Linked DNA regions of Homo sapiens: region 1 is linked to region 2. The links come from fine-mapping of genetic effects on gene expression. A gene starts in region 2. The other region holds a variant in brackets. All regions are shown on one strand. Distances are from middle to middle. Region 1 has its middle 130 kb from the start of ABCB5. Region 2 holds the start of ITGB8-AS1 (ITGB8 antisense RNA 1).

What was found. PIP is the estimated chance that this variant, and not a neighbour inherited with it, causes the effect.
Region 1: its variant is the best candidate, but not a certain one, in a credible set for the expression of ITGB8-AS1 in non-classical monocytes (Schmiedel 2018, PIP 0.51).

Annotation. Positions count from the first base shown.
Region 1 is chr7:20,484,351-20,488,737 of GRCh38, reverse strand. No RefSeq gene overlaps it. Among named protein-coding and RNA genes, the nearest start is that of ABCB5, 130 kb to the left of the region's middle. RefSeq lists an enhancer at 1,173-1,672. The variant C/T (reference allele first, on the strand shown) is at 2,095.
Region 2 is chr7:20,329,596-20,333,982 of GRCh38, reverse strand. ITGB8-AS1 (ITGB8 antisense RNA 1) reads left to right here and starts at 2,221. Exons shown (of 3, transcript NR_110120.1): 1 at 2,221-2,333. It overlaps ITGB8 (integrin subunit beta 8), which reads right to left and starts at 3,083. Exons shown (of 14, transcript NM_002214.3): 1 at 2,050-3,083. The coding sequence starts at 2,176. RefSeq lists silencers at 2,123-2,362, 2,833-3,222 and enhancers at 3,303-3,592, 3,693-3,762, 3,850-4,387.

The sequences.
Region 1 (4,387 bases), 150 kb before region 2:
ATGTTTAAATTTCTTGCTAAACTTGGGATTTTTTTCAGCAATTATTTTATTAGTGGACTTTTAATGTTTTTTATATTCTCTTCCCCTTCTTAAATTCCCAACATTTGAATATTTGGTTGCTTTATTGTTTCCCACATGTCACAGAGACTTTCTTCATTATTTTAAATTCTTTTTTGTTTGTTTGTTTCTGACTGGGTTATTTCAAACGACCTGTCTTCAAATTTAGAAATTGTTTCTTCTGGCCAGGTGCGGTCGCTCACACCTGTAATCCCAGCACTTTGGGAGGCCAAGATGGGTGGATCACGAGGTCAAGAGATCAAGACCATCCGGGCCAACATGGTAAAACCCTGTCTTTAATAAAAATACAAAAAAATTAGCTGGGCGTGGTGGCATATGCCAGTAGTCCCAGCTACTTTGGACGCTGAGGCAGGAGAATTGCTTGAACCTGGGAGGTGGATGTTTCAGTGAGCTGAGATCATGCCACTGCACTCCAGCCTGGCAACAGAGTGAGACTCTGTCTCAAAAAAAAAGAAAAAACAACAACAACTTTCTTTCTTCTGCTTGGTCTGTTGTTGGAGCTCTCAGTTGTATTTTTTCTTTCATTTATTGAATTCTTTAGTTCCAGGATTTCTATTTGGTTCTCTTATGATATCTGTTCCTTGTTAAACTTCTTCTGTAGATCATGAAGTGTTTTTCTTATTTATTTGCATTATCTGTATTCTCTAGTATTCCATCAAATTTCTTTAATATAATTATTTTTAATTATTTTTAAGGCCATTCATGGATTTTCTTTTTGTTGGGACCAGTTACTGGAGAATTGTGTTTCTTTGGAAACATGTCATGTTTCCTTGCTTTATCATGTTTCTTGTTCCTTACATTGATATCTGCATATCTGGTGTAACTGTTGCTTCTCCTAATGTTATGTATTGGCTTTCACAGGAAAAGACATTTTCCTATAGATGTATCTATAGTGGCTGGGTAGGGTACTTTGGCTTTGATTCTGGATGAGTGCAGCAGTGTAGTCTCTGTATGATTTCTTTAGCTGTAATCAGTGTCAGTGGTGTCTGTGACTTAGTGGCTTAGACTTTAGTTGTTAGTGGAGGCTGTGGCAAGGCTCCACTGGGGACAAGGACATCAGGCATGATTTTTCTCAGGTCCCTGGGAGATGTTCCAGGCATGGTGATTAAGGGTCTAGGCAGGCAGGTCCTTTTGGCCTCCGGGTGACTTGCTTGGGTGGCAATGGTGGCTGGACTGAGTGGGTGAACGGGTGGGTTCTTGGGCCCCTGTTGACATCAGTGGTGGCAATAGTAATGGCGGTCCAATCCTCAGGCCCCTGAGTGGCATGTAGGGGGTGCTAGCAGTGGCGATGGTTGGCTTGGTGGTTCAGTTCTCAGGCCCCCTGATAGTGCACACAGGTACTTGTGGCAGTGGAAATGGGTGGGGCTGGCCTTTCCTCAGATCCCTGGATGGCACACATGTTCAACAATGGCAGTGGTGGGTGGGGTGGACCTGTCATTAGGCCCCCTGGTGGAATGCACAGGCCAGCCAGAGCAGGTTGAGTGGATCAATCCTTGGGACCCCAGACCATGCATGTGGGCACCAGTGGCACTGAGTGACACAGGCTTGTTCTTAGGCCCAGTGCCTGAGCAGGCCAGTCCCAGGCCCTCTGAAGGTACATACAGGAGGCTGGAGGAAGTGAGGTTGTTGTCAGCGGTAATCTCCTTAGGCAGTTAGTTCTTAGGCTGCAAGCAGAGTAAGCTTTGGCTTCTTTTGTCCTGGGGGCAGCTTTCCTAGTGTGCTGCACTGCCTGTTCCCCAGGGTATAGGACACTGCCTTGGTTAGAGTCCTTGAGACGCAGCCACATTGCTGGGTGCATCTGGTGGTGCAATGCTACAGTGCTCTGAATGGATGTTGGGGGATGGAAGTGGAGCTTCAGGAATGTGGAGATTCAGGGGCTGTTGGGCTCCAGAGGCGGATATAGCTGGTGGGGACTGGGCTCTCAAAAGGGCCCTGTGCTGCAGCTGCTTGGGTCTCAGGGGGTGGGTGGGACTCAGCACAAACCCCTTCTCTGGAATAATGTCACTATGTAGACTC[C/T]AGACATCTCCTGTACTAGTATCAGAGTCCATAAGGGCAAAGAAACTCTCTTGTGGCTAGGATTGCAGGGGTCCATAGTGAGAATATGAACAACTGGGGATATCTTAGTTGTCTTTTCCCTACAATAGAGAGTTTCTCCTAGCTTTGAACCAATCCCAGCCAGGCTGGCTGTTTCGCTTTCCTCTCTTTCTATGCCTCAGTTGTTCCCTGTCACTTTCCTGCTGAATTCCAGTGTTCTCTCTTAGAAGCTCTATTTGATGTATGGTTATCTACTTACCATTTTGGTCCTTCTTTGTGGTTAATCAGTCATATGGAATTCCACCCTCTGCCCTTCATTTTAAAGTTTGTTACTATGTATATAAACATTAAAAATTGCAATTTTTCTTTTTCAAATTCAATTTTTAGTTTTTTAGTGACCATTTTTATCTTTTCTTTTCCTTTTTGGGACAGAGTCTCCCCCTGCTGCCCAGGCTGGGGTGCAGTGGCACGATCTCGGCTCACTGCCAGCTCCACCTCTCGCATTCATGCCGTTCTCCTGCCTCAGCCTCCCGAGTAGCTGGGACTACAGGCACCTGCCACCACGCCTGGCTAATTTTTTTGTATTTTTAGTAGAGACGGGGTTTCACCATGTTAGCCAGGATGGTCTCAATCTCCTGACCTTGTAATCCACCTGCCTTGTCCTCCCAAAGTGCTGGGATTACAGGCGTGAGCTACCACGCCCGGCCGACCATCTTTATCTTTAATATTTTTTTGCCTTTATGTTTATTTTGTCCGGTTTTAATATAGGTATTCCAGCATTCTTCAGTTTAGTATTTATCTGATATATCTTTTTCACTCTTTCCACATTTTCTTTCATTTCTTTATGATAATGGGACTCTTACAAACAAAACTTAACAGGTTTTTAAAAATATTGAATTTAATATTACAAAATTTATTTTAAATGAAGAATTATTTTAAATGTATAATGATCACTAATATATGTTATTGGTTCTATTATTTTATTATGTGTTTCCTATTTGCCTAAGCTTTTCTGTTTCTCCTTAACTCTTTTCTTACTAGTTTATTGTTGTTTTTTCATTTTAATTATGAGTTTTTTTAACCCATACAGAAATTTTATATTTGTTTGGTTAAATTTATTGATTTTGGGAATTGCATTTGGATTTTGAATTTATAGTTGCCATTTTTCATTCTCATGACTAGTGTATTTCAACATTTCTGAGAAATTCTTACCCTTTATCTATTCTAATTTTGCTTCATCTCAATTTCCTTTATTATTTCTTTTGGAGCCCTGACTAGATGTGTTATCTTAACCTATTTTTAATTTCATAGGTTTTTTATTTTTTCTGGGCTACATTTTGGACAATTTGTTTGAATCTGTTTACTAATTTCTATCCTAGATTTTTATTTGTGTCTGAAAGTCATCTTGGCATTTAAATCCAATTCTTTAAATTTTATTCTCTACCAGAGATTTGACAGACAATAGAGGTGCTGTAAATTCAGACTGTAAATCTCTATGAGGGCAATTTTGTGGTTATGAATTCTCCCTTTTCTCTCCATCCCCACCTCATCTTCCTCTATGACAAGGCTTGAGACAGGCAAATTTCCTTGCTATCTCCTCCTAGGTAACAGGTTTTGCTTCTTCTTCATCTTTATACTGCTGGCAGAAAATCCTATTAGATTTCCCACTTTTCTGAGTAAGTGCTAAGCATTATCACCTGTTTCCTGGATATTGTGCAGTCACTGGAGGAAACTCAGGTGTTCAGGGTTGGGCAGAAACCCTCAGAGGTGACTTTGGCACTGGCTTATCTCCTGAGTTTTCTGTGCAGCAATGGGGAGGTCCCACAAATCCTTTTGTTTGTTTTTAACTCAGTGATACACTTAAAATTTAAACTATTCATATGTACTTATTCAGCTTTTTGGTTGATTTTATCTAGAGAGTAGTTTAAGGTTTCTGGTGGTGTTAGAAAAGAAAGTTTTGACCTAATTTCTTACATCTGTAATTTTACTTCCTCTGCAAAGTCATTATTCCTTAGTGAGTTGTATGTTTTTAGTGGGTGGCTCTGTTGTCAACTGATATTACCATATCCTTTTGGCTATGAGTCAGCTAGCCGGGGATTAAAAGAGAATTATTTTTCCATCTGCTTGTCATCTAGGTTTTAAAGTAGATAATTTCATCTCCTGACAAAAAAAATCTGTTTCTGTATTTTATAAGCAGAGTGTCAACCATGTTGACATTCTGTTTCCTTTTTTGTTTATATTTATCATTTGTTTATATTTATAACATTATATTTTA
Region 2 (4,387 bases):
AACAAGATTTCCATTGTAACTGATACCTAAATTTCTATTCTGCTTTAAGCATCTAATTTGCACTGTAAAGACATATAATTTGAGACTTGTAGCTATATCACAAAAGTACAGCAGTTTATGCTGATCTCTAATTTTCTGAGTTATACTGGCTATAATTTACATTTTTTGCATGTTTTTAACTGCCATGCAAATCAGTATACATCAGAAACCTTTGTATATTGACAGAGACTGGGAAAAGGATGCCTTGTTCTGATTTCAGATAAGCATTCCCTTTTCAGGTCTGCAGGTGCAAGTAGGCCCATTCATAATATTTCCTTCAAATCAGTTTTAGACACTGGGTAGAAATGCAATGCTTTTTCACAAGAGCCTGACTAATGTTTATAAGCACAGTTAATGGTTTTTAAAAATGTACTTTAAATAGTAAATTTTAGAGGCAAGTAGGACTTTTTCCTTTGCCTGTACGTTGGGAACAAAATATACTGTGTTAACACAAATTTTGGTCATTTTACTAGTGTGTATGTGTGTTTACTAAATCTAGAAAAGCACTTTATTACTTATTGAAACAGGATGAAATTATGCTTAGCGGAAAATTTGCTGCAACAAATGCATGTTTCTTCCATTTAAGAGATAACTGATAATGAATGTTACTTTTTCCTTTGCCTTTTCACTATTTTGAAATCAACAAACAAGCCAAAAAATAACCACAAGATAAAGAGATTTACTCTAATTTCTCCATTTCAGATAACTGAGCAAATCTCCCTGAAACAAATATTAGAAAACTGTATATGCAACAATTTCCTAAAGATAGCTGGATGTTTCCATATATCTCTATATCTATATATATAAAACCTACTTATAAGGTTATGATTTGACTGTTTTAATTAGCTTCAGGCAAAACCTTGACACTTTAAAGTATAGGAGTAAATTTTAACCTACAAAACAATTACAACTATTAATTAAACTCTCCTTGAGCCCAAGAGGTCAGAGAAAGGCTCTAATATAATTTAAGGACTTGGTGACCAAACAGAGAAAAAGTGAAATTAAAAAAAAAAAAAAAGAAAGTATGACAAGAGTCACTGCATTAGCAAAAATAAATGTTGGGCCTATATTGAAAACCATTAAGAACTCATCCTAAACTCATGATTCGTCCTATTACTTAGTTGTGTAATTTTCCAACAATCCAATCTGGTATACCACCTTACATTTGATTTTGTTTCATAAATCAAAAGTCCTAAAACACCTTCTCATATGCTATTTGACTTGAACTTTCCTTTGTGATTTAGAGAAGGCAGGTATTATTAATAAACCTCGTTTTACAGATGAGGACAATGCATTTCGTAAAGAGTTAACCTCTCCACATTAAGGTAGCTCTTACACAAATGGTTTGCCTGGACAGAAAGCTGTTAATCCTGGTTCAGAGTTCTTTCTGCTTCTCTGTCTCAGAGATTGATCTCAGTGAGGGATCAATTAGATAGTATTTTTTTTTTTTAAGCCGAAAGGATGATGACTTAAAGCATTAATATCCCTCCAGTGTGGGTAATTCATTCAGATTGAGCACTAATGATAGCAGAAACTTGTATGCTGTCTTTTTCTGGACTCAAAAATTGAAGACTACTCCCATTATAACCAACTTATCTACAGCCTCGAGTTAAAGGCAAGTTAGTCCTTAGTGGACCCAAATGTTAGAAAGATAGGGAGAACATTGTGTACAGACGATGCCCTTAAGAATGGACCAGGGCCCCTAAATGACTTCTGTAAACAGGACACCCTCTTTTCCAAAATTCCTTTCTATTAGGGCTTCCTCAACACCTAGGAGTAACACAGAGTGTCTCCTCTGATAATTAGTCCTTGCTGTCGCTCCAGGGCAGAAATGCTTGACACCTGGCCTCTAGGCCATCTGTGCTGGAGGACGCTGCCCCGCACCCGCCCCCTTGAAGTTCTCTGATGACCGCAACTTACCTGGCCGGGATGCTCTGGCCGGGCAGCTCTTCGTGCCAGCCCAAGACCTTTGGGGAAGAGAAGAAAACAAAACAAAACAAAACAACTTACCACCTTGGCCCAGTCCAAGAACAAGTGAAAACACCCAGGCTGCCCAGAGGAACGAGGCGGGACCTCGCCGGTCGTTTTGCAGGCAGACAAATGCAGCGGTAAAAAAAGCCAGGGCCGAGCCGCACATAATGCAAAACAGCCCGCCCCGCGCCCGCCGCCTGACTGCCTTCCGGACGCGGGCTCGCGCCTCCCGGGCGCACCTCGGGGCCCGCGGGCCGAGTGTCGCTAGGACGTTTTCCGCAGGCCTAGCAGGCGGACCCCGCGGCTCGGAGCAAGCGGTGCAGGTAAGCGGGCCCGGGCACCGCTCGGCATCTCAGGGCCCCTGCGGCCCTCCCGGCTCGGCACGGCGGGTCCCGCGGTCTCCGCGAGAAGCACCTCCTTCGACGGCCAAGGGCCCCGGCGGCGACTGGAGAGAGGGCTCTGCAAGGGCTCCGCAGCCTGCTCCGGGACAAAGAAAAGAGCTTTTGTTTCTCTCCAGCCGGTGGGGCTTCTGCTGCATAAATCAGCTTAGCGAAGAGCCAAACACAATCAAACCCAAACAAAGCCCGAAGCTGGGGGGGAAACCACCCTAATGTACATTCACTGGGTGATGCTGGATCTGTGGGAGGGGACGCCGGCGAGGTCGAGGGGAAAAAAGTCTGTGGCGCATCAATCAGCGCAGTTGCTTCCACAGGTGGGCAGGGAGGCCAACACCATTAGTTGCAGCTTTGCAGCCCCGTCTGCGGAGCAGCGGGCAAAGACAAGTCGGCAGCGTCCTGGCTGGCAAGGGAGGAAGCTCGGGATGCCAGCAACAGGGGGAGGCGGCTCTGGGAGCGCCCTAGAAGCACCCGCCGACACCCGCAGGCACAGAGCGAGGCATCGCCGCTCCCTCCCTGGCGGGGAGTGGGGCCTGCGGCTGCGAGCGCAGGAGGGGAGGTTCCGCGAGGTGCCGGAGCCCGGCTTCGCGGGGCGGGGGCTGCGTGCCCTTGTCCTTTTCGCCTCAGTGCGCGGCTCAGGCGTCCCGCAGTCCAGAGCCCGAGTTGCTGGCGCGCTCTGGGGTGCACACGGCTAGGATGCGAGAGAGGCGAGGCCGGCGATGGGCGGGAGAGGGGTGGTCCTGCTCTGGCCCCCCGGGGGGCTCCAGACCTGCGGGTAGCCGGGTGCACTCAGGGCAGAGAGTTGCTAGGAAACCTCCCCACGCTACCGGAGCGCCTCGCCTCGGCTGCCCGCAGGCGCGGCTGCAGCCCGGGCAGGAGCAGCAGTAACAGCTCGGAGCAGCGTGGGCGGGACATTGGTGAGGCATGAAGTCACCGCGGCCCACACTCGCTCTTTGTTTTGCTCACTCCAGCTCTTTCTTTTCCCCCTTGGCTCTGATAGTTGCCATTCCCATCGTTCACAAGAACTCCTGAAGCGTAGCCGCGCAACAGGAATGGCACGCCTCGTTCCCTTCTCCCTCCTCCCCCGAATCCTTGCACCCCAACGCTCGCGGGGGTGGTGGGAGACTCGCTCAGCGCCAGCGGCAGCTGCGAGCAAACCCCAATCTCTCACCCCCGCGCTGCTCGCCGCTTTGTTCGGAGATACTCACTGCCCCGCAGCTGCTGCATACAAAGTGGAGTCAAGGGACCTCCCCTGCCCCCAACGCCCTCTACTCAGCACTTTGCTTGCAGTTAGGAGCTCGTCCTCTACCCCACCACAAGGCTGCCCCGGTGTCCCTAGCCTTTGGAGAGTTGGACCAGTCTGCAGGGGCTGTTCCCGGAGCGACTGGCCGAGATTTCTCGCTGCTCCTTCTCTGCTCAAAACCTTAACCCTGGACTGGACAGCCCTGTTTTTCCCCAGCGTCTGGTGGTGGCTCTGGGCTTTTGCAAGTTACAGTGGGTCTTTTGATCTTAAGCGTCACCTTCCCAGTAAACGGAACAAAAAGTTACAGACAGCAGCAAAGCGGGGAGAGGGGAGCTAAGGAGAGAAAGTGGAAGGCACTTCTGCCTGCTTGCAGCTCAGAAATTTAGGTGCAAGTAGGGTGCGGGTGTTATGCTGGGCAACTGCCCGGAAGCAGCGCGCCTCCTCGGGTCCTGTCATTACCACGCTAAGTCGAGGGAGGGAACTCAGTCCCCCGCATTGGAAACAAGGCAGTGTTTCCAGTTTAACACGGTGATGGTTCTCTTTTCCCTCTAGGGGCAGGAGCGATTCCCATTCGAGGAGTTTGACCTCTCATTTTAATACAACACCCGCCTCTTAGAGGCAGCAGACCAGTCCAGCCAGGTCAAGGTGAAATATGCGGGAGTTTCCCCCCTTCTTATTTAATAGTTTCCGTCTCCTTATTTGTAGTTAAAAAAAAAAAAAAAAAAAAAGTAGGAGGCGC